5 separate regions of the Homo sapiens genome follow, and regions 1, 2, 3 and 5 are each linked to region 4. The links come from fine-mapping of genetic effects on gene expression. A gene starts in region 4. Each other region holds a variant in brackets. All regions are shown on one strand. Distances are from middle to middle.

Region 1 (5,108 bases), 31 kb after region 4:
CTTTATTAAAGTATTTTTATTACTTTTAACAATATTTAAAACAAAAGGATTTTCTGAGTAGACTTGTCTTTAACATGTCTGGATGAAAAGTATAATTCTGCTTCATATCCCTTTTTGTGGGTATGTACTTTTTGTAGTGGGGACTTGCTGGGATAGGTATTAGAATAGATGATCCATTTGCCAATTCTCTGGACTACACAGGAATAACTTTTAATTTAGTTTATTTATATTCTGCTCATTTAGAAAATTTACTATGCCATTTTACTAAAATAACCATTTAGGGTATAAAATACATGTGAGGTGAATTATGTGGTTATATAAGTTGTATCTCAATGAAGCTATTAATTAAACTAAATTTTAAAATGTGGAAATCCAGGCAAAGAAGAGGAATGGCGTTTGTCTTTGTTTTTCAGAGGTTTAGTGTCATTCACCTAGAAATTAGTGCCGCTTTAGAAGTAACTACATTGGAACAAAAAGTACTTTTTTAATATGCTTTCTCTGGATTTTGTCTTAATGGTTTTTCAGTATTATTTTATACACAGCATTTTATTCATTATTGGGCCAATTCTGGAGCTAAATGTAGTGGTAAGATGTATTCAGGAGATTTTATAATTGTTTCTGCGGGAGAACACAGTAGAGCATAAGTAATTGGAAATAAGTAAAGAATAGGCCAGGCGTGGTTGCTCAGGCCTGTAATCCCAGCAATTTAGGAGGCTGAGGTGGGTGGATCACCTGAGGTCAGGACTTTGAGACCAGCCTGGCCAAAATGGTGAAACCCCATCTCTACTAAAAGTACAAAAATTAGCCGGGCATGGTGGCAGGTGCCTGTAATTCCAGCTACTTGGGAGGCTGAGGTAGGAGAATCACTTGAACCCCAGAGGTGGAGGTTGCAATGAGCCGAGATTGTGCCATTGCACTCCAGCCTGGGCAACAAAAGTGAAACTCTGTCTCAAAAAAATAAAAAGACAAGAAGTAAAGAATAAAAATGGCAAGACAAGAGGCAGTGAGAAGAGGTGATGAGTCTTTCTTTTTTTAGAGTTAGTCTACTTTGTGTTCCCTGCTAGTGAGTCTGTGCCTATGGGCTTACATATGGACATAAGTTTGTGTAAGAATTATATTTTGTTCTATCCTAAGTGGCAGCTCTCAAACCTTTTCAGCCAGGGACCCTTTTTAGCATCGCCAATCCTTCTGGCTTGAGAATTTTCTATGTGTTTCTTTAGTCAGGATTTTTTTCCCATTCTCCAGTTTTTAGTGCCCTTTTTCAATATTGTAGACAGTTGTCATTTTAAGCTTTTTTCTTTCCTTTATTAGTACAAATTCAGGTAGTAAAATATTTTAGTAATTCATATTATTAAGTACCAATTTTCTGAATACTACTTTGAGCATTACACAAAGCATGATGTGGCGTGCCATTTACTCTGAGTTCTACTTTACTATTCATTTGTATTTCTATCTCTTATCTGCAGGTATGGCATTTCAAATATAGATACAACCATTGAAGGAACGTCAGATGACCTGACTGTTGTAGATGCAGCTTCACTAAGACGACAGGTATTTAGTGTACCAAATAAGATATATTTCTCAGTTATATTCATACAATATTTTAAAGTGATAGTTCTCAACATTTTATTATTTTCTCTCCTGTGGGACTATCAAACTAGTAAGCCATCATTGATTTTCTCATTTTGATTAAAGATATATTAAACTACCATTTACATGTTTTGATCACCGTAAAACAGTATTACCAAGATAGATTAATGTAATTCTGGCCAGTAACAAAGAATCTTTAGCAAACCAGTACAGCCATCAGTTGCTTGTTTGGCTTTTGAAATGTGGAACAATTACTTTGGAACCTTTGTTACTGTGTTTAATAACTCCATTTTGGAAACCGCTCCTTGCAGCTTGCACAGCATCCCTGCATACGTATTTCCTGTATTCTGTAATAAATCCTTTCTTAGAACTGCAGTTGCACATGCATATTTTTTAATATGTACTCCCACAGCCTCGAGTATCACACAGACATACACACATGTGAAGAAGGCATAGTTGGTTTTCTCATTGCGTCTATACCAAATAGATATAGAGGGAAATTGGATTAAATAAGATATTTTTAGGTGAAGATCAGTAGGAGAACACAAGCTTTAGCAGGTGGTTGTTCAGCCCTGGGATTTTCACAGTAAGGGCTAACAGCAAGGATGGTACTGTCAGCCAGCAGCATTTCCAGCAGCTGGGGAATTAGCCTTCAGGCCTGAAGGGTTTGGGTGCCATATCCCAAGGCCCCCTACAGTAGATTATTTTATTGGATTGTCTCAGTAACTCAGAGGTGGACAGAGAAGGCGGTTATGCCAGGTTC[A/C]AGATGAACAACTGAGGTTGAGTGACAAGTTCATAGGAGAGGCATAGAAAGGGGAAGGAGTCCCGTATTCTTTCTGCTGTGGTAAGCCTGCCAAAATGCATACTGAGTCTTTTCTGCCAGAATAACAGTAGGTAACCGCTTCCTCACCTCACTATGTAATCAAGTTAGGAAGGAAATACACCCTTCCTAACTCAGAAATCTGAAGAAGGGAAAGGGAAAGGATGTTTAAGTGAATTTAAGCTGTCATGAATGACATGTTTTTCTATGTGTAGTTGTGTTTATTTTGCTCCAAATGAAACTTTCCATGTTTGTAATAATACTTTTGTTGACAAATTATTATACTACTTACTTTATAAGAATCTGATTGCCCTATTCATTAAAGCCTCTATATTATATTTTTTGTGTGTTTGTTTTTCACTTAGATAATCAAACTAAATAGACGTCTACAACTTCTGGAAGAGGAGAACAAAGAACGTGCTAAAAGAGAAATGGTCATGTATTCAATTACTGTAGCTTTCTGGCTGCTTAATAGCTGGCTCTGGTTTCGCCGCTAGAGGTAACATCAGCCCTCAAAAATACTGTCTCAACAGCTGGAAATATAAAAGATTTGCAAACTTCTTTGTTTCTGTCTCTGCATTGTATGCCATTTTATAGTCCACACCCTGAAAATGTATTTCTTCCAGAAAGTCTGGAGGAAGGACCTATATTTGTAGAAGTAAAGGTATATTCTGTCACTCAGCTGTATTCACGTCTGAGCAGTTCTGCAGTAACACCTGCTTAAAATTCTCCCTTTGCATGTTTTGTAAATAGGCTCCAGTTTTGTTTTTTAAAAGGAATTTATTTTTTGCCTCATCAGTCCACCCAACTGATTCTGAATGGGAGAGAGTCTGTAGAGAATTGATTCAGAAAAGTGTCTGTGAAAGAAAAACAATTATTTTGTCCTGTTTCTCAAACAGTGTTAAGCAGTTTTGTTAATAGACATTTTTGCATCGACACTTCAACATTAACACTTTCAAAGTCATGGTCTGGTGCCAGATTTAAGAAACTCGAACCACCTAATATTTCATAACCTTCTTCATTAGGTACTTGTACAGATTAATTTCTAACATTGCAGCAGTTTCATATGTGTGCAATATGTGCATTCTTTCATTTTAGTTTTGCACTTGGTTTTCTATAAAGTACGTTTTTACTCAGTTCATGCGTGAACAATTTAAAAAACGACAGAATAAGGTACAAATGTAGTGTATTTAATAAACTGTCAACCAAAGAAGTATTTGTCTGTTGAAGGATTTTATTTCATCATTTGTGCAATCAGCTACATTTTGTATCATATTACCTTATGAGTCTTCCCGTCTCAGAGCAAGTAATACAATTAATGACCTGGTAGGTAGCAAGAACCTGCTGTGCTTCCTTTCAGACCTTCATCCTGGTGGTGGTGGCTGTTGGTTGCATTGTAGGTGGTTTTCTAATTTATAATATCTATAAAGTGGTTCAGGTTTAAATACCTTGAGTTGTGTATACTTTTTTTTTTTTGAGATGGAGTCTCGCTCTGTTGCTGATGCTGGAGTCCCGTGGCATGATCTCAGCTCACTGCAACCTCCACCTCCCAGGTTCAAGTGATCCTTCTGCCTCAGCCTCCAGAGTAGCTGGGATTACAGGCGCTGGCCACCACACCCAACTAATTTTTGTATTTTTAGTAGATACAGGGTTTCGCCATGTTGGCCAGGCTGGTCTCGAACTCCTGACCTCAGGTGGTCTGCCTGCCTCAGCCTCCCAAAGTGCTGGGATTACAGCCACTGCGCCCAGCCAGAGTTGTATATACTTTTTTCATGGCAGTATTTATTTGCTAATTATATATAGGTGAATTTAAATCTCAAGGCTGGGTGTGGTGGCTCACGCCCGTAATCCTAATACTTTGGGAGGCCTAGGCGGGTGGATCACTTGAAGTCAGGAGTTCGAGACCAGCCTGGCCAATACAGTGAAACCCCATCTCTACCAAAAATACAAAAATTAGCCAGGTGTGGTGGCAGGCATGGTGGCAATAGCTGTAATCCCAGCTACTCAGGAGGCTGAGGCAGAAGAATCACTTGAACCCAGAAGGCAGAGGTTGCAGTAAGCTGAGATCATGCCACTGTACTCCAGCCTGAGTGACAGAGCCAAACTCCGTCTCAAAAAAAAACTAAAAATTTAAAAGTAAATCTCAAAAGAATTAAACCAAGTGAAGCCAAGTGCTAGACAGTTTTAGCTCTCAAAACTTATATTTCCCCATTTTCGGTTCAGAAATGGGTAGAATTCAGTTAGGTGCAACATTCTCCACACATCTTTGGTATCTTTCTTCCAAGGCAGGGAGTTTGGGGAAAGGCAGTTGAGGAAATTCCTTGGATAGAGTTAGATTTAGCATTTCCGTTCTTGCTTCTTATCCCTCTAAAATAATATCAAGACAAAGATTCTTCTCTGTACTTAGAAGTTTTCTGACTTTTGGTAATGATGCAACTATATTAATTCTAGATTTATGTATACCAGAAGGTAATTTCTGTGGTTATCCTCCAAATTGAAATCACAAAAATGAAGAAAAATGATGGATAAGGTTAGTATCTTTTGATAAACAGACATGAAAAGGATTCCACAAAGGTCAAAAAATGAAATAAAAGCAGGAATACTGAGAGAGAAGTGCGGAAGCCCTTTTTTTCCCTCATGATTCTTACCAAAGAATGGACACTTGGAGCTTTCTCCCTTAATGATTGTGCAAGGGGTA
Region 2 (5,108 bases), 170 kb after region 4:
GCCATATGCTATGAATGTTCCTCCAGACATTTATATGTGGGAAACATCTGTGTATGGTCTTCTGCATATATAATTTAATTCTGTCTTAATACTTGCATTGTAGTTGAACATCCTATTGCCAAAGAAAGTCATGCTCCAAGCCCAGAATCAGAGTGAGAGGGGCTACCAAGTTACAGGGCAAAGGGCATGGATACAATCACACAACTGATGGCAATACGAATTGTATTTTAGTCATCAATAAAGTATATCTGTATTGGTAGCTGTGGTAAGCAAATAATGTTATTACTATTTATAGATATGCATAGAGACCATACTTACAGAGTAGATCATTAGTTTCTACAGATGTGGTTTACAAATTTCTTGACTATTACTTTAGTGTTTATAGACTTCTACAGTGTGTTTGGTGGAGGAGATATGTATATCATTAAGTTACAGCACATAATATGCCAGATGCTAGTAAAATATTTCGCATTGGAGCACTTTGTATTTATTTGCTGAAGTAATTTTTGTCATTTTTTTCAGAACCAGAATATTTCACAAAAAGTTTCCATGTATTTCTTTTGTATCATACAGTTACTTTAAAAAAAAACCTGTAGTGATCTTGGCACTGTAGCTCCCCTGTAATCCCAGCACTTTGGGAGGTGGAGGTGGGAGGATCCCTTGAGGCCAGGAATTCGAGATCAACCTAGGCAACAAAGCGAGATCCCATCTCTCCAAAAATTTAAAAATTAGCCAGGCGTGGTGGTACACATCTGTAGTCCCGGCTACCCAGGAGGCTGAGGTGGGAGCATTGCTTGAGCCCTGGAGTTCAAGGCTGCAGTAAGTCATGATCATGCAACTGCACACCAGCCTCGGTGACCAAGCGAGATACTGTCTCAAAAAAAAAAAAAAAAAAATCTATAGTGATTTTCTGTATGTCCTCATTTGTGATGTCATGGGCAAATTATGGTTTTCTAGTTAAAGGAAGTTGGATTAACTTCTGATTATAAAGTTAACGGAAGGTGGACTGGTGAACACTGCTGTAAGTAGATAATTCAATGGAGAAGAAAATTTAGAAATAATTTTATTTTGAAATATGTATAGTTTATGTTTTCTAGTTGTAAGTTAACCTTCCTAATATGTTTGAAGACTAAAAGTAAAAGCATTACTACTGGCCAAGTGCAGTGGCTCATGCTTGTAATCCCAGCTGTTTGGGAGGCTGAGGCGAATGGATCAGTTGAGGCCAGGAGTTCAAGACCAGCCTGGCCAACGTGGCGAAACTCTGTCTCTACTAAAAATATATATATATTAAAAAAAAAAATTAGCCAGGCATGGTGGTGTGTGCCTGTAATCCCAGGTACTTGGGAGACTGAGGTGGGAGAATCGCTTGAACCTGGGAGGTGGAGGTTACAGTGAGATTGTGCCACTGCACTTCAGCCTGGGCAACAGAGTGAGACTGTCTCAAAAAAAAAAAAAAGAAAAAAAAAGAAGACATTATTATTAATGCTCCACAGGCATGGTCTATGTGTAGGAGTAAAATCAGGCATTGCATGCCAGTATTTGATTATCTCTATACTGGATTAAAAACAAAACAAAATGATTGCTTTGAAAACCCATGCAATAACGTACACTTTTCCCTTGTTAACATTCATGATTGATTCATTTTTGAAGCAGAGATTTATTAATAAATTACCTACTGTGGGAGAATGGCGTGAACCTGGGTGGTGGAGCTTGCAGTGAGCCGAGATTGCGCCACTGCACTCCAGCTTGGGCGATAGAGCGAGACTCCGTCTCAAAAAAAAAAAATAAATAAAATAGCCTGCTGTGTGCCAGGAACTGTCCTTAGGTCCTAGGGATACAAAAAGGGAGATGATTCCTGTCCTCCCCTTGCAGTCTTCTACATGCAGGAGACATAATAAAAGTACAGTGGTCTTGTGCTGAAAGCTCAGATTTGGACTATGCAGGTTGTGAACCTTGGGCAAGAAGCTTTTTAGCCTTAATTTCTATTGGTAGTAACTATAATACCTATGTATAAAAATGCTAGGATTTTTTGAATTAGGCCAACTTGTGAAAATTCCCAGCGTATTTCTTGTCAGATAGTATTTATTTATTGAATCTGAATCTAAAGTGGTAGAAGTTATAAGAAGAATTATCAATTTTTATTTTCATTCCTGGTTTGGATGGTTTCTGTAGGGGGATTTTTCAGTTTTCATAGCATACTGTCATGTCATTTACATTAATATTCGGGTTATGTATTTAAACTCTTGGAGCATTTTAACTTCGATTTTCTGCTGAGTTTAATAATAATGAAAATTGATAGTTATTTTAGTAACAACATATTGCCATGTAGAGTGGCAGAGTTAAGTTATATACTCATTAATTCAGGATTTACAGCTATTCTGTTGCCTATGGCAGGGGTTGGCAAACTGCTTGTAGTGGCCAGATAGTAAATATTGTAGGCTTTGTGGGCCACCTGTATTCTCTGTTGCATATCCTTGTTTGAAATTCACCCCCTCTTCCCCCCCCACCCCACACACACAATTCTTTAGTGTAAAAACCATCTTTAGATTAAGGCAGTATAAAAACAGGCTAGTGATGACCCAGTTTGGTCTGCAGATTGAAGATGTATAGAACTCTTAACGTTTCAGCTTGCAATGTAAATCTTTTTATGACCTGACTTCTTAATGTAATGACGTTATTGCCAGCAGAAATGTTTTAACTACAATGATCTTTGTTTTGTTTTCCACATGTGCTATCTGTATTCTAATTTTCTTGCCATTTTACCAATGCTGGCTTTTATTTTTGCTTGACTTTTCTCTTCTAATCCCATCAGTCTTTCAGGAGTTTTTATACCTCAGATACTAACACCCCCATATGTATTTTAAACTGTTTAAAAAATAACATTCACTGTAAGATTTACAAAAAAAAATTTTTTTTGTTATTGCTCTTAGTT[T/C]CTTCTGTATTGGTCTTACTGCCCTCAAGACATTATAGACATCTCTGTGGCATAATCTTGCATACGTCTTAATTATACCTAAAGCAGTGAAAATGCACAAGCATATATAGCCAAATGAGTTTCTTTCTTGTTTTGTTTTTTTTTTTTTTTTTTTTTTTTTTGGGGACGGAGTCTTACTCTGTCGCCTAGGCTGGAGTGCAGTGGTGCAATCTTGGCTCACTGCAACCTCCACCTCCCAGATTCAAGTGATTCTCCTGCCTCAGCCTCCCAAGTAGCTGGGATTACAGGCATGTACCACCATGCCTGGCTAATTTGCTAGGACTCAAAAAAATCCGTGGTTTAGTTTGATTACCACTAATTTATGAACCTTGTTACCTTGGGGAAACCACTTTTCCCTGACCTTCATTTTCCTTTGTAATCTGTGGGAAATATCTGTTTTGCCTATTTCATGAGGTTGATTTGAAGGTAGTATATAGGAAAACATTTTGAAAATTGATGTATTATATAGATGTAAGATCATGGTTTTATTTTATTTTTTAAAATTAAAAAAAAATTTTTTTCCCCAGGTTTGGTAACTTGCCCAAGATCGTGCTTTTATGGGCAAAGATACTTTTCCAGTTGATTCCTAAACACAGAAAATAAGTATCACATAGGAACATGGCATGCTTTGAATTGAATTTAGGGTGGAGATAAATTTTTGCAGAATTTCAGTCAGTATGATGGTATTAATAAATGAAAACATTCACTAATAATACATTGAAAAACATTTTAAACTACAAAATTAATTATTTGAGGGAATAGCTTCCTAGAGGGATATCTCAGGTTTAAAACCATCCAATTAAAATATTAAAGCACACTATTGTTATTATTTAAGGGATATTTATTTAGTGTCTGCATATTTATGCACGTCTGGCCTTTTAAGCATTTTGAAAGGAAGGTATGGTGCTATGGCTCTTCTAAATATTAGCTGAATCTAGTCAGTAGTAACTTAGTAAAGTTGAAAATATTTAGAGTATATTATTTGATGTTAACTGTTGGCTTTCAGAGAAATACACTAACAAAAATGTAGAAAATGTAGACATGTCTTTGTGTTGAACATATCATAATCCGTGGGTCTTTTTGAATGACAGAAAACCCAGAGATTTATAGAAGAAGCTAGATGTTGTTTGTAACTACTCTGAGAGTTTACTTAACTTTTTTTACATTACATATTCCAGGTTACAGTGTATTTCTTTCTAGCTGTTTGCCTTACCATTCTAGCTTCCTGTAATCTCTTAGCTTGTTTTTTTCTTGCCATTGTGTGTTATCTTCTAAAAAATCTTACTTGACTCGAATTAAAACAATATAAATCATTAGATGCTTTTGTTTCTTTTTTAAAGAGTTTTTTTGTGGAGTTATTCATGCCTTTAGACAAGTAGATAATGTAACAAACTTCCATCAACACATGGCTGTCTTTTTATTATTTTTAAGCAAATGCGAGACATAAAATTTCATCTGTAAACTCAACTCTCATGTTATCTGTAAATTTCAAGGACTTTAAAATATATATGGCAACAGTGCTATTTTTGTCCCTATGACAATTAACAGTAATCTAGTCATCTGGTCAGTGTTTTAAGTTTTCTGTTGTTCATCAGTATCTTACTTTTCTTTTTTTTTTCTTAATGGTTTGTTTGAATGAGGATCCAGGTAATATCCACACATCGAGTGGTTAAAATGGGCTTTAAAACTTTGTATTGCTTATAAAGGATTGGAGGCTTGGCTGGGCACCATGCCTCATGTTTGTAATCCCAGCACTTTGGGAGGCTGAGGCAGGCAGATCACTTGAGGCCAGGAGTTCGAGTCTAGCTTGGGCAACATGGCAAAACCCCATCTCTACTAAAAATACAAAAATTTGCTGGGCGTGGTGGCGTGTGCCTGTAATCCCAACTACTCTGGAGGCCAAGGCACAAGAATCACTTGAACCCAGCAGGCAGAGGTTGTAGTGAGCCAAGATGGCACCACTGTACTCCAGCCTGGGTGACAGAGTGAGACTCTGTCTCAAAAAAAAAAAAAAGGAAGAAAAAAAGGGATTGGAGGCTAGATGGATCACAGTGACACCTACAAAGATTGGACTGGAATGGACCTGTATTAGTAGTATGTGGCATAGATTCAGGCAGAGGTTTGTGTTAGGGGCCTC
Region 3 (5,108 bases), 53 kb before region 4:
TTCTTATAATGAGCATATATTACTTTTAAAAGTAATATATACTCAGAAAAAATAAAGATATATTCTTAAAATTATGAAGATAAAATTTTAAGAAGCTAAGATCTGAGTTACTTTTTACATGATCTCTTGTTCTGTTATTTACTCCCATTCTCTTATTGCATTTATGTTTTATGATAGAAGTTGTCTTTCTTTCCCCACAAGGAAACACTCTATTTTCTTCATACATTGTATTACCCTGTCTACTTAGAGTTGGCGTTCAATGAGGAGTTAGTTAATAATTCGTTGATTTGCAGGAAGACAAGGCGCAGCTGGCTTGAAAGGAAGCCCAGGGTCCCCAGGAAATACAGGTCTTCCAGGATTTCCAGTAAGATTTCATGTTTTTAAATCTTTAGCTTCAATTTGACAAATTGCACACTCTAGAAATATGGTTGCAACACACTTACCAGTTTGGTGCCTTGCAAACAGTAGGCACTTAATAGATACCTGTTGATTAAATGAATAAATCTGTGACTGATTAAGTGAATGAGTCAATGAATTTATAAACAGTTTGAAATGGTATCAGAAACAGAAAGCAGATTAGTGGTTGCCTAGGGCTGAGAGTGGGAACAGAGGTTCATTGCAAATAGGTTTGAGGGAATTTGGGAGAGTGATGGAGATGTTTGAACGTGATTGTGGTGATTGTGGCATAATTCTATAAATTTACTAAAAATCATTGAATTGTACTCTTATAAAGGAGAAATTTTATGGTATGTAAATTATACCTCAATAAGTCCGTTAAAAATTAGAATCTTGACTGTCATAGTGAATCAAAAAGTTATAGATAAATATACTTAGATCAAACTATTCAAAGAGGCTTGTTAAAATTTACCAATATTCAAACATAACCTGTATTATGGTGATTGTTCTATGGTATTAAATTATATTATTGTCTGTATTGCTTTGAATTATACTATCTAACTGAATTATTTTTCAGTTTTGGAAGTTAACAACAAAGCAAAACAAACAAAATGCTTGTAATAATAGTTGTGGACCAAAGAGTGTGTTGAAAAAATTCATGTTAAAATTGAAAAGTTCTTGTCCACACTGTTTTTAAGATTGACAGAAGAAGAATTCTAACAAAATACAATACAGATTCATTTGTGTACTACCCTAGGGTTTCCCAGGTGCCCAGGGTGACCCAGGACTTAAAGGAGAAAAAGGTGAAACACTTCAGCCTGAGGGGCAAGTGGGTGTCCCAGGTGACCCGGGGCTCAGAGGCCAACCTGGGAGAAAGGGCTTGGATGGAATTCCTGGAACTCCGGGAGTGAAAGGATTACCAGGACCTAAAGGCGAACTGGTTGGTATTTAGCAACTTTACCCTCCCTATAAATGAAGTACTCTGAAGTTAAGAGATAAAGTGATTTCTTTTCCAAAAATGGTTGGCCGCTCAGCACAGTTCATCACTCTAACTGCAGAATGAAACATCTTCAAATTAGCAGGAATAACCCAAGCAAATAGTTATAGTATTTTGACAGAATAAATAGGTAGCATTCAGTGATTTCAACCAATCAAAATTCTACATTGATAATGACCCCATCTCATACACAAATTACAGTTCCATATTTGTATCAAATGAGTCTATGGAAAAGTTCAGAAAATGATGTATAGTAGAAAGTTTAGTAAATATTTTGGGGCGATGTCCATATTTTTAAATAAAAATAAATGCATAAGAAGACAGCATATTTAGGGGTATGGTAGTCAAATAAAGAGATTAAATGTTTTGTCATTCATTTAATTTTATGGAAATTTAATCCCTTTTCATGAGAGAGTTTCTCACATATTTAATTGAGGTAATACCTACCAAGATTTTTTTTTTTTTTTTTTTTTTTTTTTTGAGAGGGAGTTTTGCTCTTGTTGCCCAGGCTGGAGTGCAATGGTGCAATCTCAGCTCACTGCAACCTCCATCTCCTGGGTTCAAGTGATTCTCCCACCTCAGCCTCCTGAGTAGCTGGGATTACAGGCATGTGCCACCACACCCAGCTAATTTTGTATTTTCAGTAGAGACGGGGTTTCACCATGTTGGCCAGGCTGGTCTCGAACTCCTGACCTCAGGTGATCCACCCACCTTAGCCTCCCAAAGTGCTGGGATTACAGGTGTGAGCTACTGCACCCAG[A/C]CCTAAGATTTATTTTAAAATGTCACAGAGTGAGAGGGTGAGCACCTGTCATCATAATGTATTTACAAGAGGTTTGCAAGGGATGCTGCCCAAACTATTCTATGAAATACCAGTTTCTCCCAGGGCTAATCTGTGTTAGCCAATAAAACAGATCTTACCTCAAAGAGGTTTGGAGAAACTTGGTAAACAAATTTAAAGATTCATTTACAGACCCTTTAATATCAGAATATGAACTGTGAGTCTTCCACATGAAGATAAGCTATCTGGTCTTTCCTAAATGCTTCTGACTACAAAACCCTTTTTGGCTGGCAGCATCTATGGTGCCAGCAGTTCTCAGACCCTGCCTTGGCCAAGTCCCAGGTTGTTCACTTTGTGGTAGTTATGCTTATAAAGTGACAGTGCCAGAATTCTGATGGTCTAATATTAAGAGAATTTGTATGATGTCCCTACTTGCATCTCACTGATTTTTCTTTATAAGTTCTGGTAAAGATGCTCCATAAAGTAAATGAGAGAAAAATCAAGGTGGTGATTTGTTGAGTCTTACACCCTGTCATTAAAAAAGGAGACAGACCACTTAGCCATCTGATGATATTGAACAATGAAAAATTGAGTCAAATTTATTTCAGAGGGCCATGTTGGGAAGGAAGAGGGCTTAAATTATTTTGTCAAATTCAATTTCTTTTAAATCTACAAATCATTTTCAAGGTTATAGCATATGAAGATTTAAAAACTAGACAGTTTATGAGAGAAAATGGAAGTGGGAAATCCCCTTTGTCATGAAAATACCTGGTGAAACCAGAAATAAAGGTTTGCTGTGCTCATTTTATTTCAGAAATGTAACATTATCATGAATATCACCACTAAAGTCATTTGAACTATTGGTCAATTTGAACATAGTTTTAGTGGCTATTACCATATGGGAGACCCATCATTGTAAGATATCTCAAGTGGGACTCAAGACAGTTCCAAGTTCAAAAAATGTTGCTAAACTCCAAAGGACACAAAACGGAAGAAACCTGCAGTGCTCTTACTTTAGTAATAATTCTCATCAAATGCCAAATGCTTTTAATTCAAGATCTCAATGACAGCCTAACTGGTATTCATATTTGGAGGATGATTAACCTGTTGTAAGAATATACTGGAATGAAGCACGATTCAAACACATTCCTGTTGTCACAGGCTCTGAGTGGTGAGAAAGGGGACCAAGGTCCTCCAGGGGATCCTGGCTCCCCTGGGTCCCCAGGACCTGCAGGACCAGCTGGACCACCTGGCTACGGACCCCAAGGAGAACCTGGTCTCCAGGGCACGCAAGGAGTTCCTGGAGCCCCCGGACCACCCGGAGAAGCCGGTTGGTTAGTTTTCTTTCCAGTCCTGTTTTCCGATGGAGTGGGTTGATGGTTTCTAGAGCTAACGAAGCTTCTCCAAGACTAAGGAAAATATAGAAACTTGCTTCTAACGAATAGAATATGTCAACTCACAGATACCAGGAAAGAATATGTAGGGTATGTTAGAGAAAACTCATTTTTTCTCCATTACTGGGCAATTCAACTGAAATTTCCTAGAATATTCTATATCTATTACATACATACATATATATATATGAAATGAATAGATCCTAAGCGTTATTGCAAATTTGTTTTTTGTGGTTTTCTAGAGACAGGGTCTCACTGTGTTGCCCAGGCTGGAGTGCAGTGGCATAATTATAGTTTACTGCATCCTCAAACTTCTGGGCTTAATAGATCCTCCTGCCTGGTCTCCTGAGTAGCTGGGGCTACAGGCACGTGTCACCACGACCAGCTAATATATATTTTATTTTTATTTTTTGTAGAGACAGGATGTTGCTGTGTTGTCCAGGCTGGTCTCCTACTCCCAACCCCAAACAATCCTTGCTTCAGCCTCCCAAAGTGCTAGGATTACAGGCGTGAGCCACTGTGCGCAGCCACAAATTTGTTGATTTTGATCCATAACTCCATAGGCAGGTTACAAATAAAACTTTAAAATATCTAAGACAAATGAAGGAAAATGGTCTGATAATAGTTTAAAAGTCCAGGTAACTTTTGGGATATACATATACTGGCCGTAGTTCTGGATTCAGGAGTGTGGCTGAAGGTCAGAATAGCATGCTACTGATAGTTTTGAGCAAATAATGCCAACATGGTCATGTTTTACTTCTAAAATCACCTTAGGCTGGGCACAGTGACTCACACCTGTAATCTCAGCACTTTGGGAGGCCAAGGTGGGCAGATCACTTGAGGTCAGGAGTTCAAGACCAGCCGGGTCAACATAGCGAACCCCCATCTCTACTAAAAATACAAAAATTAGCTGAGCATGGTGGCACATACCCACAGTCCCAGCTACTTGGAAGGCTGAGGTAGGAGAATCGCTTGAACCTGGAAGGTGGAGGTTGCAGTGAGCCAAGATCGTGCTACTGCACTCCAGCCTGGGCAACAGATTGAGATACTGTCTCAAAAATAAATAAATAAATAAATAAATAAATAAATAAATTTTAAAAATCACTTTAAAGGGTAAGACCCAGTAAACCTCTAAATCATTTTGTAGTGTCTTCCCTCATCAGTAAAACTTTTTGAGTGCACAACCTTACATTATATGTTATAAATGTATGCATCATTTCTGTCCACACATGTATGTAAATCTTATTTTATGACTTTCTCTATATATTAAATAAACAAATAAATATTTATGTTTATCTGCACCTTACTTTGGAGCTGCTTTTTTTTTTTTTGTCTGAGATGGAATCTTGCTCTGTCGCCCAGGCTGGAGAGCAATGGCGCAATCTTGGCTCACTGCAACCTCCGCCTCCCAAATTCAAGTTACTCTCCTGTCTCATCCTCCCAAGTAGCTGGGATTGCAGGCACCTGCCACCATGCCAGGCGAATTTTTATATTTTTAGTAGAGATGGGGTTTCACCATGTTGGCCAGGCTGGTCTTGAACTC
Region 4 (5,108 bases):
GGAAGGTTATCTTGGGGCTGACATCGCTCGGTCAGAGGGAAGGTTATCTTGGGGCTGGCATGTGTCTGGTGGGAGAGGGGTTTATCTTAGAGTTAGAATGTTTCTGGTCGGAGGTGTCATTTGTGGTTTGTGGTCATGCTGACAGCCATTAGGCTGATGCCCTCTGGGTTGGATTTAGGTGGTTTTTGATCAAGGGGCACTTTAAAATGGCAGTGCTTCTGCTCTGTCAATAGTAGGATATGCCAACCCAAAATATGGCACTTTGGCATAAAGATTATTTTCGAGTCAAAGGCACTTAAAAAAAAAATGCAAAAAGAGCACTGTGGCTTTCCTTTTTCCTTCCTGAAAGCAGGAGATAAAACTTCCGTATGAAAGGTGCCCTCCCTGTATAAGGAGGAAGGGAGATGTTCTCAACACCAGAGACATGGAGTCAAAGCTGAGCTGTATCTGCACAAACTTACCGATTTTCATTTCCACTTTGTTACAACAACCTTTATCTTCTTAGTCACTTCTGCATTAACTGCACTAACCCAAATCTGTTTGTTTTCTCACATTTTCACAATTTACTACTCTTTTTAGCCTTCCCTAGAAAAATGGAGACTCAAAAGCACTTAGGGTCCAACTGTTAATTTGGGTCTCCATTTTTCTAGGGAAGGCTCCAATGTAAATGTAAAAATTACTAAATAAAATTTGTATGCTTTCCTCCTGTTATGTTTTATGTCTCTATTTTACGTCAGTGGAGACTAAGCTCTGATTTTTTTTTTAATCTTGCTCAAATTCCTATCTAAGGGGCCTAGGGATTCATGCCCTACAATCCATAAATTCTCATCAGATGGGTTTTATTTAACCCTATATATTGTGACTTACTTTCCAATCTGACACTGGCATAACGAGACAAGAAACAAAATCAAAATATTTTACCGCAAAACATTTTTTTTAGTTTTTGACATATCTTGAAACGGCTCTGCAAAGCTGTCCTTTGTTGGGGGAAAATCTGCATCTACATAGAATTTCTATTAACATAGCTAGATCATTTTCTTCCAGGTCCTCCCAATCCTAAAGAGATTACGTAAGAATCTAGCACCTTTTAAAGATCTGAATAGGAAACATTTGTCATCCATTGTCTCTAAGGGCAGCCACTATAAGACTTCAAAAGAACCTTGGTCTCCACAATCTTTTATTTTAACCTCAACATTTCCTTTCTATGGGTCCCAGGTCTTCAACTGTCAACCAGAAAATGTTTAAATTTACCTACAGCCTTGGAAGCCCCTGCTTTGAGTTGTCCCACCTTTCTGAACCAAACCAATGTAGTTCTTAAATTTATTTGATTGATGTCTCATGCCTCCCTAAAATACATAAAACCAAGCTGCGCCCCAACCACCTTGGACACATGTTCTCAGGACCTCCTGAGGGCTCTGTCACGGGCCATGGTCACTCACATTTGGCTCAGAATAAATCTCTTCAAATATTTTAGAGTTTGACTCTTTTCCTCATCAGTTTAATTCTTAGGCCCAGCCAAGACCCCAAGAGGGGAGAGGAAATATTTTCACTTTCCCTACACCAGTGTTAAGAAGCCCAAGAACGCAATTCAGAGGGCTTCCCAAATCATTTTGAAGAATGGTAACATCTCTAGAATATCAATTAGATCGTAGGGGAGTACATAAGTCATGTGTACACCTTTAGGTGTTTGTGAAAACCAAGGCATATAAAATATCACATTATTTGGCCTCAGTACATTCCCATACTGACAAGCACTGTACCATTTTTCCCCCGCTCTAAGCAAGGGCTTCCTGGGGGGAAGAGTCTGTGGTTGGGTGTTCAGAAGCAGAGAGTGCTCTCCCAAAGCTAAACGATGCCGCCAACTACTGTGAAACTTAACTTCCCCTCTCCCGGAATTCTCATGGAAGACAAGGTCTGATCAACCGAGGGCTTAAGAAGTATCAAATTGGAACTCATGGAATCACTGGCGGAGCTGATTTACATATGAGAATTCCTAAGCCTCACAGCATAGAAATTTTCATGCCAGATGGTCCTGAAAAAGTTGTTTTAATTGGCTACCAAAGGTTTACCTTGCAAACACCAAGTTCTTAAAGATTACAAAATCTAATAAAGCCGAAGTGTGAATTAAACTTAACCGCAAGAGGAGTCACCTGCGGTCACCTCGTTTCGCCCACAACAAAGATGTCTGCGCATCGCTTACCGTGGAGCCGTTCCAGTGCGTGGGCCACGCGTCCGCCCTTTTCCGCGTCACATGACCACGAACACTCTTCCGCTACGGCTCCCAGAAGGGGCCAGCCCGCGCCTTTCGCGCTTCTGCCCTGGCCCTCTGCGGGCCGCTCCGCCGGTGCTGTCCCTGGGCGCCTCCGTGCTCTCAGCCAACCACCTCTGAGAGCGCCCACTCGAGCGCCCCGGGAGCCAGAGGGCGGGGGTCCTCGCCGGGACCCTCCTGTGGGCCCAGGGGTGAGTGTTGACGTCTTCCCGACCCGCGACCTGCCGCCCGAGCTGGCTGCCAGGCCTATCGCCGCCGCCGAGACCCTCCGGCCAACAGGGACCCGCGGTGGCCCCGGCCCCCCCGGTAGTGTCTCCCTGACCCGAGTCCCGTCCCCGGGCCTCTTGCCTTCAACCCTGGTCTTTCCTCCTCCCCGGGACCTTGAGTCCCCGAGGAGAGCGAGGGAGAGGAGCGTCTTCTGCAGGTGTTTTTGGGCGAACCTCTTCACCTTGTGTGGTTCGGCGTCTCCTTTTGTGTATTAACCCGGACTTTTCCGACTGGAAAATAGGGGTTTGGGAAGCAGCGGGAGTCCCGTGAGCGTGAACGCCGGGCTTTGCAGGTCTTCACTCATCCTTCCCTGCCAAGGCCCTGACACCTTACAGGCTGACCTTAAACCTGCCTTGTTTAAAAGGAGGTTTTTGTGTTGTTTTGTGGCAAGTACATTTTGGAAAAGAAGGGCCTTGTTGGAAGCCCAGGTTGTGGCATCGCGGGTGGCTGCGGGCCACCCTGTCCGTCTGTGAGCATCCCTGCTCGCAGATGTGGCTGCAGGCAGTTGCTCTCGGGTTTCCTTCCAGGAGCTGGGAAGCCGGAGGAAAGCTGCGGTTCCTGTTCCGCCGAGCTTCTGACCTTCCTCTGCAGGACGTGTGCTACTATTACTATCGTAAAAGAACACCCCTGTCTACCTCCCACAAAGTTAGAAGCAAAGGGCATTCTCGAGGGAAGAGCACCCTTTCAAAAGTGACATGTTTTCATTGGAGAACATTAAAGGGGAAAAAAAAAAAAAAGGTTTCTGGCCCTTCTGCCCAAATATAGAACCATTTGTATTCAGGCCTCTCATCCACCGAGAGACTTAAGATGATCACAAATGTTTTGTCTCCCTGCGTGAAAAACATTTTTTCTGCCTCAATTCCGTTGGCTAATGAGAGCCCAAAAGAAAAACCCTTAGGAAAATTAGGACGATTTAGTTATACTTAGTAGTCTTTTCCCATGCAATTAAATTGCTTGGGGGACCTTCTATCTTTTGGTTTCAAAGGCTTGTATATTGGTTTTGCCATTTTTTCCAAAAGGAAATTGTGTTCTCTCCCTTCCTGTCTGATAGAGCTGCCTCCTTTCAGAATTGCAAAGTTTAGTCTTCGCTCTCCTCTCTTCTGGTATTGAAACTTTTCTGTGGGTTCATAACCTTATTTTAAAGTTCATTAATATATAGTTTTAAAAGTTTGCAGTGACTTTTTAAATATAGTTTCTTTGAAAAAGAACTGAAACAGGGTGTGCAGAGTGGCCCATCTGTGTGAACTAGGTCCACGCAGTAGGTAATAAACAACTGGAGGGTTTTTTTTGGTTTGTTTTTGTTTGTTTGTATGTTTGTTTTTGAAAAGTACATAAACATTTGCAACCACAGTCAGTTTGACTCAAGTTGTTTCGGTGACTTCCGAGGCTTTCTGGGTTCCAGTGTTCTAATACAGAAAATGAGAAAGTTGGGCTGGAATCATTGTGTCCCAAAATTGGTACACTTTCCGCTAGTGGCATGTGACTTGACTCTAGGCGGTACGTGGATGAGGATTTTTTTGTAATAGGATGTTTTTGCAATCTGTATTTATATATGTACAGCCATGGTTTAAGGTAGTGATACAAAATTTTCTTTTACAATACTTTTTTGATTTTAAAAAGTCGAGTTAAAAAAATTAACTGTAGCAAAAAGTTAATGTACTCTGTGAATATGGGAAAAAAAAAACCCATGAAGTTGGCAAGTTAGTTACTGGTGTTTGGGAACCACTGGGCTTAGAAAGTAGAAATATGAAATCATCTGTGATTCTAAGAGAGATTTTGCCTCGTTTGTTATGTAACAGAATCACGTACTGGTTGCCTACTGGATTCTAAGGTACAAAACTTCTGGAATTAACATATCAACACCAAATGAGACGTTTATTTATTGCCAAAAGATATTATCAGAAATGCCACAGTCTAACGAGGGAGAAAAAAAATCAGATTTTGATTGGTTTTAAGCAGAAAACCCAATAATTGGGATAATACAGTGTTAAATCTTAGTAGAAATCCAGTTACTTTTTAAATGTAAGTAGTTCAGCTACAGGAGAACTTGGCTTTTTCCAGAAGTTGGCATTTCAGCATCCACCTTTATTTTCTAAGTCACTAGTTTTTTACAAACTCAGATATTCTCGTAAGAAAAGATGTTGCTATAGAATGGAATATAGTAGTGAGACCTATGAGATGTACTACTAGAAAGTTCGTAAGACTGAAATGCAATGAATGGAATGCAGAGAAAGCACATTTCAAGGAGATACTGAGGTTCTAGCCACTTGGTTCTCGTTTATTATTATAAAACTTCAATTTATAATGGCCAAAGGCTATAATCTTTTTGAGGTAGCTTTTTTCAGTGTTAGTTCTGAATATGAGCTTTTGCTATGCTTGAGATACACGCAAGTATTAGAAGAGCATCTCATCTGGAATGATGCACAAAAATTGATTATAAAGGTTGCCTGTGGGAACCTGGGTGGTTAAGGATAGGATTGAAAGTGGGACACTTCCTTTTCTCTGTATAGCTTGCGTACTTTGTACCGAGTACATGCATTACTAGTTCAAAATTTTAACATCGTAAGTGAAT
Region 5 (5,108 bases), 47 kb after region 4:
ATTTACTTTCTCTGAGCGTCCATTCCTTCGTCAATCAAACACACTTCTTACTTTTTCCCACTTAAGGGTTTTGAGAGAATTAAATGAAACAGCATCTCTGAAAGTGTTCTGAGCAGAGTGACACTCCGGTTAATGAATCTTAATTTACTTTTAACTTCGTTACGACTTTATACATAGTGGGTAGGCATTAAATGTTTTGGGGGAAAAAAACCTGGCAGCTCCTTTAATTTAACTGGATAAAGGCAATTGTCATTCTAATCCTAGCAAACCAGTCTGTCATTGCATGAGAGAACTGAGTACATTTTCCCTGAGTATTTTATATACGCCACAAAAATATCACACCCGAGTATTATGAAATTGATTGCAGCTGTGGGCGTGACTTACCAATCTCCTTTCTTTGAAAACCTTTAGATTGAGGAAAGGACAATCCACGGAAGACTGAGGAAGGGACAGAAGGCCAACTCTAAATGTTTGTGGGACAAAAAAACCCGTCTCACTTTTTCTACTTCTATATAATCATCCTAAATAGCATGTTTCAGGCCAGGCGCAGTGGCTCAAACCTGTAATCCCAGCACTTTGGGAGGCCGAGGCGAGCAGATCACTCGAGGTCAGGAGTTTGAGACCAGCCTGACCAACATGTTGAAACCCCCATCTCTACTAAAAATACAAAAATTAGCTGGGCGTGATGGTGTGCACCTGTAGTCCCAGCTATTCAGGAGGCTGAGGCAGGAGAATTGCTTGATCCCGGGAGGCAGAAGTTTCAGTGAACCGAGATCGCACCACTGCACTCCAGTCTCAGCAACAGAGCAAGACCCTGTCTCTAAATAAATAAATAAAAATAGCATGTTTCTAAGGCTGTGGCTCTGTCAGTGGAGCCCCACTGTGATTCGGTAGATGCGAGTGACTCAGTGTGGCTTTGCTTAGGTAGCAATAACTGTTCATGCACTTCTGCTTCCACGCCGACTGCTTCATACTTACTCCAGTTCTGTTGTTGCAGCACGCTCTTTTTCTTGCTGTCAAGGACATTGTTGTTGCTGGAATGGCCTGGAAATGACATCAACAGGAAAGATGAGTATTATAACTTCTCATCAGAAGAAAAAATAGTAATCTTCACCTTCCGTTTACCACCAGTTGTGGGAAATCAAGGCTCAAAGAACAAAAAGGGAATTTGGCAATATCCGTGGTTTTGTGAACCTTGTCATCCCAGTTTCAACCAGAAAGATTAAAAGTGGCGGCGGGAACAGGGGAATTCAAGACAGGAGTTTTGAAGTCTTCTATCTACATTCTTAGTTCACTCTGAGTCATCTGCAGAGAATTGGATTTTAAATAGATTAGGATGACTTATTTATACATTATTTTTGGAAGAAATGTTTCTGAAAGAATTGGCTGCATCATCCAAACTCTGTTGTTTGTTTGTTTAAAGAGTAGGGGTCTCACTCTCTTACCCAGGCCAGAGTGCAGTGATACGAGCATAGCTCACTGTAGCCTTGAACTCCTGGGCTCAAATAATCCTCCTGCCTTAGCCTCCTGAGTAGCTAGGACCACAGGTGTAGACCACCACACCTGGCTAATTTTAAAAATATTTTTGTAGAAGCAAGATCTCACTCTGTTGCCCAGACTGGTCCTGAACTCCTGGCCTCAAGAAAACCTCCTGCCAAGAAAACTAAAGATGTGAGCCATTACGCCTGGCCCGATTTCCCAGAAATTGTATGGATTATTCTGGCAAACCTGCAGAAAAGAAATTGATGGTTTTGTTTGCCTGGCAGTTGGGAACAAATCATTCTGTCACCACCCACTCCCACTAGCCTTTCTTTTCCCAGGATCCCGGCTATCTTGCTGGTTTCCCCAAACTTATATTTGAGAATTATTTTTGGTTCCACGTTCTCCTTTCTCTTCCTATATCCATGATATGTAATGATCTCACTTTATATATTGATGCTCAGAAATCTATAGATCGCATTCTGCCTTCAGGGAAATACACGTTGCCAAGGAAAGCTGTAAGAAAGAACACCATATTCTCAGGACTTGGGTTTCAATTTTTAGTATATCTAGGCAGCAGCTACGACTAGAAATTCTTACTGGAAGGAGTTTTGTATCATTGAAGGGTGGAATGTAATTATTTCCTTCCGCTTGAGAAATTTTAGGCGTAGGTTTTTTTGCCATCTCAGCACAGCTGCCCTTGAGTGGTTTTTCTCTCTCCTTCTACTCTCATTCTCTAACATTTTCCCGAGCTCTGGCGAATGCCAGACTCTGTTACAGGCACTTTACACGCCTTAGTTTATTCCATCCTCATAATAATCCTATGAGGTAGGTGCTATTATTATTCCCATTTTACCAATGAGAAAACTGAGGCATAGAAAGGACAAATTACTCAAATTGTCCTTCTACTTTCTTGGTAGAAGGGTTGGGATTCAAAACTAGTCATTTGGCTGGGCGCGGTGGCTCATGTCTGTAATCCCAGCACTTTAGGAGGCCGAGGTGGGTGGATCACGAGGTCAGGAGATCGAGACCAGCCTGGCCAACATGAGGAAACCCCGTCTCTACTAAAAATACAAAAATTAGCTGGGCGAGGTGGTGCACACCTGTAGCCCCAGCTACTCAGGAAGCTGAGGCAGAATTACTTGAACCTGGGAGACAGAGGTTGCAGTTAGCTGAGATCATGTGACTGCACTCCGGCCTGGCGACAGAGCGAGACTCTATCTCAAAAAAACAAACAACAACAACAAAAAAAGCTAGTCATTTGGGGTGCAGAGCCCACATAGTTTTTTGTTTTGTTTTGTTTTTTTGAGACAGGGTCTCACTCTGTCACCCAGGCTGAAGTGCGGTGGCATGATCACGGTTCACTGCAGCCTCAACACCCAGGGCTCAAGTGATCCTCCCACCTCAGCCTCCCGAGTCGTTGGGACTACAGATGCATGCCATCACGCCCTGTTAGTTTTAATTTATTCTGGGGGGCATTTTTTTGTAGAGACGGGGATTTTGCCATGTTGCCCAGGCTGGTCTCGAACTCCTGGGCTCAAGTGATCGCCTCGGCCTCCTAAAGC[A/G]TTGAGATTACAGGTGAGCCTCTGTGCTCAGCCGGGACTCTTAATCCCTATTCCACACTGACTCAAGTCTTACAATTCTCCCCTATTCCTACCTAGAGTTTGTTCATTCTCATCTTCCCTGCTGCCTTCACCCTTGCCCATCTCATTGTCCTTCCAGTTACTCCCACTCTGATTCATTTATCCAAGGCCACATCTGCCTTTATTCTTTTAGCACGGGTTTAAAGTTTATGCCTCTTTACAAGGCAGCTTTCCTAACAAACCTCACTCCATCTGATGATGTACTGCCTCCATGTCACTTTGTATTATTATCAAGCTTTGCTTACACATTGCCTTGAACACCACCACCCTCCTTATTTAGAGGCCACATGTGTATATGGCTGCCTAGCCACCTTGGCGCATAGCTGAAAGCCCAGAAGAAAAGGGAAAAGAAATTTTAGCTCCCAAATAGGTATCAGTATTCGTGCACTAAACATCTTTTATTGTACACATAAGCTGTACTGCCTTTTGAGCTTACAGGACAAATCATTTAGAACGGGAACTGGCAAACTATGGCCCACCACCTCTTTCTTGTAAATAAAGTTTTATTGGAACACAGTCACATCCATGTATTTACATATTGTCTATGGCTACTTTTGTGCACCAAGAGTAGAGTTAAATTGTGTGGAAGAGGCCGGGCGCGGTGGCTCACGTCTGTAATCCCAGCACTTCAGGAAGCCAAGGTGGGCGGATCACGAGATCAGGAGATCGAGACCATCCTGGCCAACATGGTGAAACCCCATCTCTACTAAAATACAAAAAATTAGCCGGGCTTGGTGGCACGTGCCTGTAGTCCCAGCTACCAGGGAGCCTGAGGCAGAGGACTCGCTTGAACGCGGGAGGCAGAGGTTGCAGTGAGCCGAGATCGCGCCACTGCACTCCAGCCTGGTGACAGAGCGAGACTCCGTCTCAAAAAAAAAAAAAAAAAAATATGTGGAAGAGGCTGGTTTATAAACCGAAAATATTGGCTGAATATTTACAGTTTGCCAGCTACAGATTTAGAAAATTAATGATTCTTTTAAAAGAAAGTGCAAGTGTACTCCAGCCTAGATGACAAAGTGAGACCCTGTCTAAAAAAAAAAAAAAAAAAAAAAAAGTGGATTGACATTACAACTTAAATGGATAAATTGTTCTATTTTCCTTGTTGATGCAAACTGAACTCTGGTAACTTTCTTGAAGATAAGTTTATTTCAGAGTTACTAAATATTTCCTTTCATGATTCACTTACAAAGGGGTTTTATAAAGGGACAATTACTTACAGTGTATAAGTCACCACCCCACCGACTTCAAGGCGTATTAACACATCTTTGTAATGCTGTTACTGGTGATTTGACAACTCGCTGCGGTTTCAACCGCTTTCCCATTCAGAGCTCCGGAAATTGGAGGGGCTCTTTAGACAGACACTAAAACTGTGAATGGTGTGTGTGTGTGTGTGTGTATGAATTATATATAAATTTTCCAGATAATCTCCTGCCAAAATGAGTAATTATGAGAACACACTTTCTCTTCATTTCCTAAGCATATTTGAATGCCTGAGTTTTTGTAAAATTAAAAGTCTTGCTAGTCTTTTGTTTTTAAAAAGGAAAGTAATATTGTTGATTTTTTCTTACAGAGCCCCCTAATTGTATTTAGTTTGAGAAGTTACATGATTTTACAAATGAAGTGTGGAAAAACTTCAGACCATTAAAAATCCTGTGATGAAATTCAGACTTTTGGGAGTCCTCTAAGAACTTGAACATGAGAGTAACACACAAAGTCATAGCTCATTACAAATATCAAAACTATATTTTGCAGCCAGGCATGGTGGCTCATGCCTGTAATTCTGGCACTTCGGGAGGCCAAGACAGGAGGCTTGCTTGAACCCAGGAGTTTGACCCCAACCTGGGCAATATAGTGAGACCCTATCTACAAAAAAAAAAAAAAAATTTTGAGACAGAGTCTCACTCTGTCACCTAGGCTGGAGTGCAGTGGCACAATCTCGGCTCTCTGCAACTCCTGCCTCTGGGTACAAGTGATTCTCCTGCCTCA

Direction of the effects. Positions count from the first base shown, and alleles are read on the strand shown. Sizes are in standard deviations (SD) of each study's normalised expression. Not every link is listed here.
For the expression in sun-exposed skin of the gene that starts at base 2,284 in region 4, A is the high allele of the variant in region 3 and C is the other (small effect, 0.17 SD a copy in GTEx).

Evidence for each region. PIP is the estimated chance that this variant, and not a neighbour inherited with it, causes the effect.
Region 1: its variant is fine-mapped to the expression of MFF in whole blood (TOPMed, PIP above 0.99). The same link has a PIP of 0.9 or more in spleen and thyroid.
Region 2: its variant is fine-mapped to the expression of MFF in whole blood (INTERVAL, PIP 0.97).
Region 3: its variant is fine-mapped to the expression of MFF in sun-exposed skin (GTEx, PIP 0.99). The same link has a PIP of 0.9 or more in anterior cingulate cortex.
Region 5: its variant is fine-mapped to the expression of MFF in whole blood (TOPMed, PIP 0.97).

What each region holds. Positions count from the first base shown.
Region 1 is chr2:227,354,211-227,359,318 of GRCh38, forward strand. MFF (mitochondrial fission factor) reads left to right here. Exons shown (of 9, transcript NM_001277062.2): 8 at 1,467-1,551; 9 at 2,776-3,623. The coding sequence ends at 2,907. Among named protein-coding and RNA genes, the nearest start is that of TM4SF20, 23 kb to the right of the region's middle. The variant A/C (reference allele first, on the strand shown) is at 2,354.
Region 2 is chr2:227,494,669-227,499,776 of GRCh38, forward strand. The region is part of intron 2 of AGFG1 (ArfGAP with FG repeats 1); the gene reads left to right. Among named protein-coding and RNA genes, the nearest start is that of AGFG1, 25 kb to the left of the region's middle. The variant T/C (reference allele first, on the strand shown) is at 2,933.
Region 3 is chr2:227,269,617-227,274,724 of GRCh38, forward strand. COL4A3 (collagen type IV alpha 3 chain) reads left to right here. Exons shown (of 52, transcript NM_000091.5): 24 at 294-364; 25 at 1,154-1,336; 26 at 3,333-3,501. The region is part of intron 4 of MFF-DT (MFF divergent transcript); the gene reads right to left. Among named protein-coding and RNA genes, the nearest start is that of MFF-DT, 53 kb to the right of the region's middle. The variant A/C (reference allele first, on the strand shown) is at 2,154.
Region 4 is chr2:227,322,968-227,328,075 of GRCh38, forward strand. It overlaps MFF (mitochondrial fission factor), which reads left to right and starts at 2,284. Exons shown (of 9, transcript NM_001277062.2): 1 at 2,284-2,460. MFF-DT (MFF divergent transcript) reads right to left here and starts at 2,197. Exons shown (of 14, transcript NR_102371.1): 1 at 2,151-2,197. RefSeq lists an enhancer at 2,106-2,155 and a silencer at 2,336-2,625.
Region 5 is chr2:227,369,937-227,375,044 of GRCh38, forward strand. TM4SF20 (transmembrane 4 L six family member 20) reads right to left here. Exons shown (of 4, transcript NM_024795.4): 2 at 979-1,044. Among named protein-coding and RNA genes, the nearest start is that of TM4SF20, 6.8 kb to the right of the region's middle. RefSeq lists an enhancer at 638-1,837. The variant A/G (reference allele first, on the strand shown) is at 3,045.